2 linked regions of the Homo sapiens genome follow. The protein of the gene in region 2 interacts with the protein of the main gene of each other region in a pairwise test. Each region holds a gene or a part of one and is shown on either strand. Other genes may lie near its edges. The genes, in order: ASS1 and NMRAL1.

Region 1 (3,808 bases), on a different chromosome or scaffold from region 2:
TCCAGCGCACTGTATGAGGACCGCTACCTCCTGGGCACCTCTCTTGCCAGGCCCTGCATCGCCCGCAAACAAGTGGAAATCGCCCAGCGGGAGGGGGCCAAGTATGTGTCCCACGGCGCCACAGGAAAGGTGAGGCACCTGGGAAGGGCCGGGCAGAGGGAGATGGAGGCGGAGGGGTGTGGGAAGGAGATGAGCACCCCTCGAGCGGTTTCCTGGTGTGCCTCCGGGGCAGACTTGGTGCAAGGCAGCTACATGGCTTTGTTTAGACCCCAATGAGAGGGGTAACAGCTCGCCCCTGCGCTCTGTGCACTGTGGCACCTGAACGCCCATTCTGAGTCCTCACCTCCACCTTCTGCTGTGGGAGCGATGTCACCCCATTTGGCAGACTTGCTGCTGAGGCCTGGGGACATTGTCCAAGGTCGCATTGGCCAAGGTCACTGCGTGAGTCCCCCAGGGGACACGCAGGAAAGTGTTGAAAACCCTGAGTTGGCAGAGTAGGGTTCAAAGGCAGCTCTGCTGCTGGCTTGCCGTGTGTCCTCAGCCAGGGCCCTTCTCCCCTTCCTGAACCTCAGTTTCTTCATTTGCAAGATGGGGCTCATGCCATGTCTTAGTTTCCCAGGGCGAGGGTAACAAAATGTCTCAAACTGGTGGCTTAGAACACAGAACTGTTCTGCCTCATGGTTCTGGAGGCCTGAGGTCCATAGTGAGGGCATGGGCAGGGCCACGCAGCCTCTGAAGGTGCCAGGAAGCCTCCGGCTCAGGCCTCTCTCCAGCTTCCAGTGGCCTCTGGTGTCCCTTAGCGTGTGGCTGCGTCACTCCTGTCCTTCCGTCCTCCATCTTCCCAAGCTGTCTTCTTCCTGTATCTCTGCATTGTCTTCCCTCTGCTTGTCTGTTTACCTTCCCCTTGCTACAGGAACCCGTCTTGGATTAGGGCCCTTCAATGACCTCATCTTAACTTGGTTACTTTTTGTGTGTGTGTGTGGGGGAGAGGGACAAAGTCTCACTCTGACGCCCAGGCTGGAGTGCAGTGGCTCGATCTTGGCTCACTGCAACCTCTGCCTCCCAGATTGAAGCAATTCTCCTGCCTCAGCCTCCTGAGTAGCTGGGATTACAGGTGTGTACCCCACCACACCCGGCTAATTTTTTGTATTTTTAGTAGAGACGGGGTTTCGCCATGTTGGGCAGGCTGGTCTTGAACTCCTGACCTCAAATGATCCACCAGCCTTGGCCTCCCAAAGCACTGGGATTACAGGCGTGGGCCACCATGCCCAGCCTTAACTTGGTTATTTCTGTTAAGACCACATGAGGCCACATTCGGAGGGACTGGGGTTAGGACTTGAACCCATTATTTTGTGGAAACACAAATCAACCCATCCCGTACCCCTTCCCTCCGGGCCGTGTGTCCCAGTGCAGACTGCGGGGTCCCCGTGGGGTGCAAGACAGGAAGCCCCCTGCCTGCTGCTCTTCGGAAGGCAGTCCTTGAGAAACCAGATTCCTGACAATGTTGGCAACTGTCAGCCGATGTTTTTATAAAGACCCAAGTCATGAGCTCTCAGTCAGCGGACAGCATGCCAAGAGCCTGGTACAGGAATTGACTGTTTACCAACCCCACAGTCAGAAGGCTCGGAAACTCCCCAGTGACGGGGAGCTCACTACCTCGCCTGCCCGGGCTGGTCAGGGTGCTGATGGTGGGAAGTCCTGGCTCACTGTGGGAGGTCCTGGCTCACTGTGGTGCAGGGACACACACAGCTAAGATGATGATGGAGGAGACGCGGTTGATTTGAGGGTGGCCTGGGAGACAGCCACCCACCAGGATGGCACCTGTCATGTCTTTGAAAGTCCAAGTGTTCATTTCTTCACCGGAGCACTGGTTCAGCAAGCTTGCACTGGGTATCTGCTGGGAGTTGGGTGCTTGCTGGCATTGGCACAGTGCTAACTTCTTGGGCTCATTGCGTACCTTCAGAGAGCCCATTTCCTGGCAAGAGAAGAGAAAATGGATGTGTGATGAGGAATGGGAGTGGGGCCAGGGGTCTGTGCCAGGGAACTGCGGGAGCAGCAGGCAGGGGCTGAGGATGAGTCTAGAGGAGTGAATAATGGCATGGAAGAGTGTGAGAGGCAGAGGGAACAGCCTGTGGAAAGGCTTAGAGCCAAGAGGCCCTGAAGGACAGTCTGTCTGGGGCTGTGGAGCAGGAGCTATTGCTGTGGGGGAGGCAATAGGGCCAGGACTGGGCTGAGGCCATGCTGGGAGGTTTGGCTTCATCCTGAGGGCAACTGATTAGTGGGTGGAAGGAGGTCTCAGGTTGGATGGAGGTGGCCAGTGACTACCCCAGCGAGATGCTGGGGAAGAGACAGGGGAGAGCTTCTCACAGACTGCGGCCTTGGTTTTTACTGTCACTCCAGCTGTGGATGATGGGATGGTAGGAAACCAGGCAAGGAGGTTTGGGCGGGCCTGAGCTGTTGGGCAGGACCGTGTGTATGCTGCCATCTGTGCAAAGGTGGTGGCAGAGGAGGAGAACCCAGAGGATCAGGACTGGGCGACACAGCGAGACTCTGTCCCAAACAAAAAAAAAAGCTCCCGACCCATCTGCCTTAATGGAAAGAGCTGGATCGTGAGCTTCCTATCCCAGAAGGCATACAAGCCGAGGGCAGGGGATCAGAATTCTGGGAGGGGTCCTGCCCTCAGGTCTTTCCAACGGTACCATTAAGGTTCAGTAGGGCGGCATTCAGGTCTGGTGGAGTGCATGGGTGGGTGGGTGAGTATGGGTGGGTCGGCTCTGGCTCAGGCAGTTCCCGGGTCCATGCGGAGACCCCCACCCCGGACCAGCCCACATTTAGCCTGCAACAGCCTCCCGCAGCCGTGTGCGCCCCTCCTCCATGTGGCCACCAGAGGGCGCCAGAGGCTTGGGTTTGAGGCCTTGGGGGCCGACAAAGGCGGGAGGAGGTGGCGGCACCACCGGGGTCCTCTGTTCCCCATCCTGGACCTGCAGGGCGTGGTTCTGAGGAGAACGCCCCCCAAGCTAGTGCTATGGCCGCTCGGGACTTGGGGGCGTCCCTGCATTCACACTCAGAAGACCCAACAGGGACGGACTCCGGGGATGCCGGGGAGTAGGTGCTACCTGGCACAGCCACCTCTTTCCTGGGGTTGACAGGCAAGGCGTACTTCTGCGCCTCAGTGTCCCTTTATGACAGTACCCAGGAAACCCCCAACAGCCTCTGGAGACAATTTCCGAGAACTGGGGGTATGAGTGGAGAACCAGGAAGGCTGGGAGCGAGGGGAATCCAAGGCCTTGGAGGTGCTGGTCCAGCCTTCAGGCATTTACCCCCTGAGTAACCACCCAGCACCACCATCCCATGAGTATCCACCCAGCACTGCCCCGGGCGCCATCACGGGGGACGGGCCAGGTGGAGGCTTTCGGGTCTTTGGGCTCAGGGAAGGTGACAGTGAAATGTTGGGGGGACAACGGATTGGCCTGGGATGTGAGGGGGAAGGGCATCCTGTTTGCTGGAACCGCCTGAGCCCAGCCCTGAAGGCAGAGGCGGAGGCAGCCTCCCTTCCCAGCACCCCGTCCAGACAGCACCTGGTGCAGAAATTGAGCCGCACTCTCCCCTCCCATGCCCTGCTGCCAGCCCCACCCCTGCCCACCCAGAGAGCTGCACCGAAGCTGGGGTGGCCCTTGCGGGGCTCCTCTCTCCCCCTAGTTTTGGAAGAGGGGCCTGGAAATATGATTCTGAGACTCTAGCCGGGGAGCGAGAGTTTTGTAAATGGCACCATCTGTATGGGTGCCCCAGGGCAGATGGGAGACCCCAG
Region 2 (3,808 bases):
TATTTTTGATGCATTTCTGTGTAAATTGCAGATATGTGTACACCGCCCTTCCATACTAAAGCATGCATAACATTAGCTAGAATTCAGTATTTGTTTATAGATTATTTTTAATTATGAGGTAAAATATACATATAATAAAGAATTTTTTTTTTTTTTTTTTTTTGGAGACAGGGCCTTACTCTGTTACCCAGGCTGGCGTGCAGTGGTGTGATCACGGCTCACTGCAGCCTCAACCTCCTGGGTTCAGGCTTTCCTCCAGCCTCAGCCTCCCTGGTAGCTGGGACTACAGGCACATGCCACCACGCCCAGCTAATTTTTGGTTTTTTTTTGTAGAGATATGGTTTCACCATGTTGCCCAGGCTGGTCTCAAACTCCTGAGCTCAAGAGATCTGCGTGCCTCAGCCTCCCAAAGTGTCTGGATTACAGGCATGAGCCCCTGGGCCCAGCTGCAACGCGCAAAATCTTAAGGGTACATCTGACCGATGCGCATGCCTGTGTGACTCAAGCTCCATCGAGATCTGAATAAGTTTTTGTATTCCTTTCTGTTAACTATTTTTCTTTGTCTCGTTTTTGAGCAGATCTGAATATGGTTGTGTATCTGAATATGGCTTTATATTCTACTTCAGGAAGAATTCAAATCCCATCAAGATCTGAATATGGTTTTTTCTTTTGTTTTGAGACAGAGTCTCACTGTGTCACCCAGGCTGGAGTGCAGTGGCCCAATCTCGGCTCACTGCAACCTCTGCCACCCTGGTTCAAGCGATTCTCCTGCCTCAGCCTCCCAAGTAGCTGGGATTACAGGCTCCACCATGCCCAGCTAATTTTTTTTTTTTTTTGAGACGGAGTCTTGCTCTGTCGTCCAGGCTGGAGTGCAGTGGCGCGATCTCGGCTCACTGCAAGCTCCACCTCCTGGGTTCATGCCATTCTCCTGCCTCAGTCTCCCGAGTAGCTGGGACTACAGGCGCCCGCCACCACGCCCGGCTAAGTTTTTGTATTTTTAGTAGAGACAGGGTTTCACCGTGTTAGCCAGGATGGTCTCGATCTCCTGACCTCATGATCCGCCCGCCTCGGCCTCCCAAAGTGCTGGGATTACAGTTGTGAGCTACTGCACCCGGCCTCATTTTTTTATTTTTAGTAGAGACGGGGTTTCACCATCTTGGCTAGGCTGGTCTTGAGCTCCTGACCTCGTGATCCACCTGTCTCAGCCTCCCAAAGTGCTAGGATTACAGCCACTGCACCCAGCCTGAATATGGTTTTGTATTCTACTTTTTTTACTTTATTACATCACAAATATTTTTACCTTTATTTTTTTGAGACCAAGTTTCGCTCTTGTTGCCCAGGCTGGAGTGCAATGGCGCGATCTCGGCTCACCGCAACCTCTGCCTCCTGGGTTCAAGCGATTCTCCTGCCTCAGCCTCTCGAGTAGCTGGGATTACAGGCATGTGCCACCACGCCTAGCTAATTTTGTATTTTTAGTAGAGACAGTGGTTTCTCCATGTTGGTCGGGCTGTTCTCAAACTCCCAACTTCAGGTGATCTACCCCCCTCGGCCTCTCAAAGTGCTAGGATTACAGGTGTGAGCCACTGCACCAGGCCCTTTTTTTTTTTTTTTTTTTTTTTTTGAGAGGGAATCTCACTTTGTCACCCAGGCTGGAGTGCAGTGGCGTGATCTGGGCTCACTGCAACCTCCGCCTCCTGTGTTCAAGCGATTCTCCTGCCTTAGCCTCCTGAGTAGCTGTGACTACAGGCGGGTGCCACCACGCCCGGCTAAGTTTGTATTTTTAGCAGAGACAGGGTTTCACTGTGTTAGCCAGGATGGTCTCGGTCTCCTTACCTGGTGATCCACTCGGCCTGGCCTCCCAAAGTGCTGTGATTACAGGCGTGAGCCACCATGCCTGGCCTTTTTTTTTTTTTTTTAATACAGATTCTCGCTGTGTCACCCAGGCTGTGGTGCAGTGGCGCAATCTCAGCTCACTGCAACCTCCGCCTCCTGGGTTCCAGCAATTCTCGTGCCTCAGCCTCCTGAGTAGCTGGGAGTACAGGCATGTGCCTTCACACCCAGCTAATTTTTGTATTTTTTGATAGAGGCGGGGTTTCACCAAGCCAAGATCGTGCCACTGCACTTCAGCCTGGGTGATAGAGTGAGACTCCATCTCAAAAAAATAAAATAAAGAAAATAAAAATACCTGAATGAGAATCGTCGTTGAGAAGGTTTCCTGGATGCTCCTTGCTGTGGTGGAGCACTCCCTTCGGGGTTTCGCCCTTCAGTGGGACTTTCAGGTAGGTCTGACCTGAGAGGTCTTTTTGATTCTTTGTAGGTGCCCAGGGTGGCTCCGTGGCCCGCACACTCCTGGAAGATGGGACATTCAAGGTTCGAGTGGTGACCCGAAACCCTAGGAAGAAGGCAGCAAAGGAGCTGAGGCTGCAAGGTGCAGAAGTAGTGCAGGGAGACCAAGATGACCAGGTCATCATGGAGCTGGCCCTGAATGGGGCTTACGCCACCTTCATCGTGACCAATTACTGGGAGAGCTGCAGCCAGGAGCAGGAGGTCAAGCAGGTGAGGGCAGGCAGGAGCTGCAGGGAGGCCCGGCCAGGCTAGGAGCAGAGCGCCTGGGAGGAGCTCCGACTCTGCAGGGAGGTTGGAGCACTGCAGGCCTTTCCCTCTTCTTCATGCCTCTGCCTGCTCTAGGCTGTGAAGCAGGTGGACGCTGTTGCTTTCTCATCCAATTACTTTTTTTTTGTTTGTTTGAGGCCGTCTCAGTCTCCGTGAGCAACCACGCCTGGCCTGTTCGTTTGTTTTTTTTTTTTTTAATCAAAAATGTTAGAAGTTTTTTTTAAAAAGTAATTTCCACTTTTATTTTAGATTCAGGGGTACATGCACAGGTTTGTTACATTGGTATATTGAGTGATGCTGAGGTCTGGGGTGTGACTGGACCTGTCACCCAGGTAGTGGGCACAGTACCCAGTAGGTAGGTTTTCAACCCTTGCCTCCCTCCCTCCCGTGGTTCCCAGTGTCTGTTGTTGCCTTCATGTCCACGTGTACCCATCCAAACTTGTTATTAGCCTTGACCCTTTCTTCAATTATGGTCTTACCTAGAAGCCCATTATATAGAGCAGACAAAGACAACTTCTCTGATTAACGCAGATCTTTTTTTTTTTTTTTTTTTTGAGACTGAGTCTTGCTCTGTCGCCCAGGCCGGAGTGCAGTGGGGTGATCTCGGCTCACTGCAACCTCTGCCTCCCAGATTCAAGCAATTCTTCTGCCTCAGCCTCCCGAGTAGCTGGGATTATAGGTGTGTACCAGCACACCCAACTAATTTTTGTATTTTTAGTAGAGGCGGGGTTTCACCATGTTGGCCAGGCTGGTCTTGAACTCCTGACCTCAGGTGATCCGCCCACCTCGGCCTCCCAAAGTGCTGGGATTACAGGCGTAAGCCACATGCCCGGCCCTGAGCTGATCTTATTTCTTTCTTTATTTTTTGAGGCCGAGTTTCGCTTTTGTTGCCCAGGCTGGCATGCAATGGCGCAATCTTGGCTCACCGCAACCTCCGCCTCCTGGGTTCAAGTTATTCTCCTGCCCCAGCCTCCCGAATAGCTGAGATTACATGCATGCGTCACCATGCCCTGGTAATTTTTTTGTATTTTTAGTACAGACGGGGTTTCTCCATGTTGGTCAAGCTGGTCTCTAACTCCCGGCCTCAGGCGATCCGCCTGCCTCGGCCTCCCAAAGTGCTGGGACTGCGGGCATGAGCCACTGCGCCCAGCCCAGCAGATCTTATTTCTAATCCTGATGATTCCCTGTGGGCTTC

What was found.
Region 1: the proteins of NMRAL1 (region 2) and ASS1 interact in binary tests that used the Homo sapiens proteins (3 or more experiments, as listed by UniProt).

What each region holds. Positions count from the first base shown.
Region 1 is NC_000009.12:130,458,461-130,462,268, forward strand, and holds part of ASS1 (argininosuccinate synthase), read left to right. Parts: coding exon 1-129; intron 130-3,808. UniProt on the Homo sapiens protein: One of the enzymes of the urea cycle, the metabolic pathway transforming neurotoxic amonia produced by protein catabolism into inocuous urea in the liver of ureotelic animals.
Region 2 is NC_000016.10:4,467,975-4,471,782, reverse strand, and holds part of NMRAL1 (nmrA-like family domain-containing protein 1), read left to right. Parts: intron 1-367; exon of another isoform or gene 368-469; intron 470-2,084; exon of another isoform or gene 2,085-2,189; coding exon of another isoform or gene 2,190-2,279; intron 2,280-2,317; coding exon 2,318-2,556; intron 2,557-3,808. UniProt on the Homo sapiens protein: Redox sensor protein. Undergoes restructuring and subcellular redistribution in response to changes in intracellular NADPH/NADP(+) levels.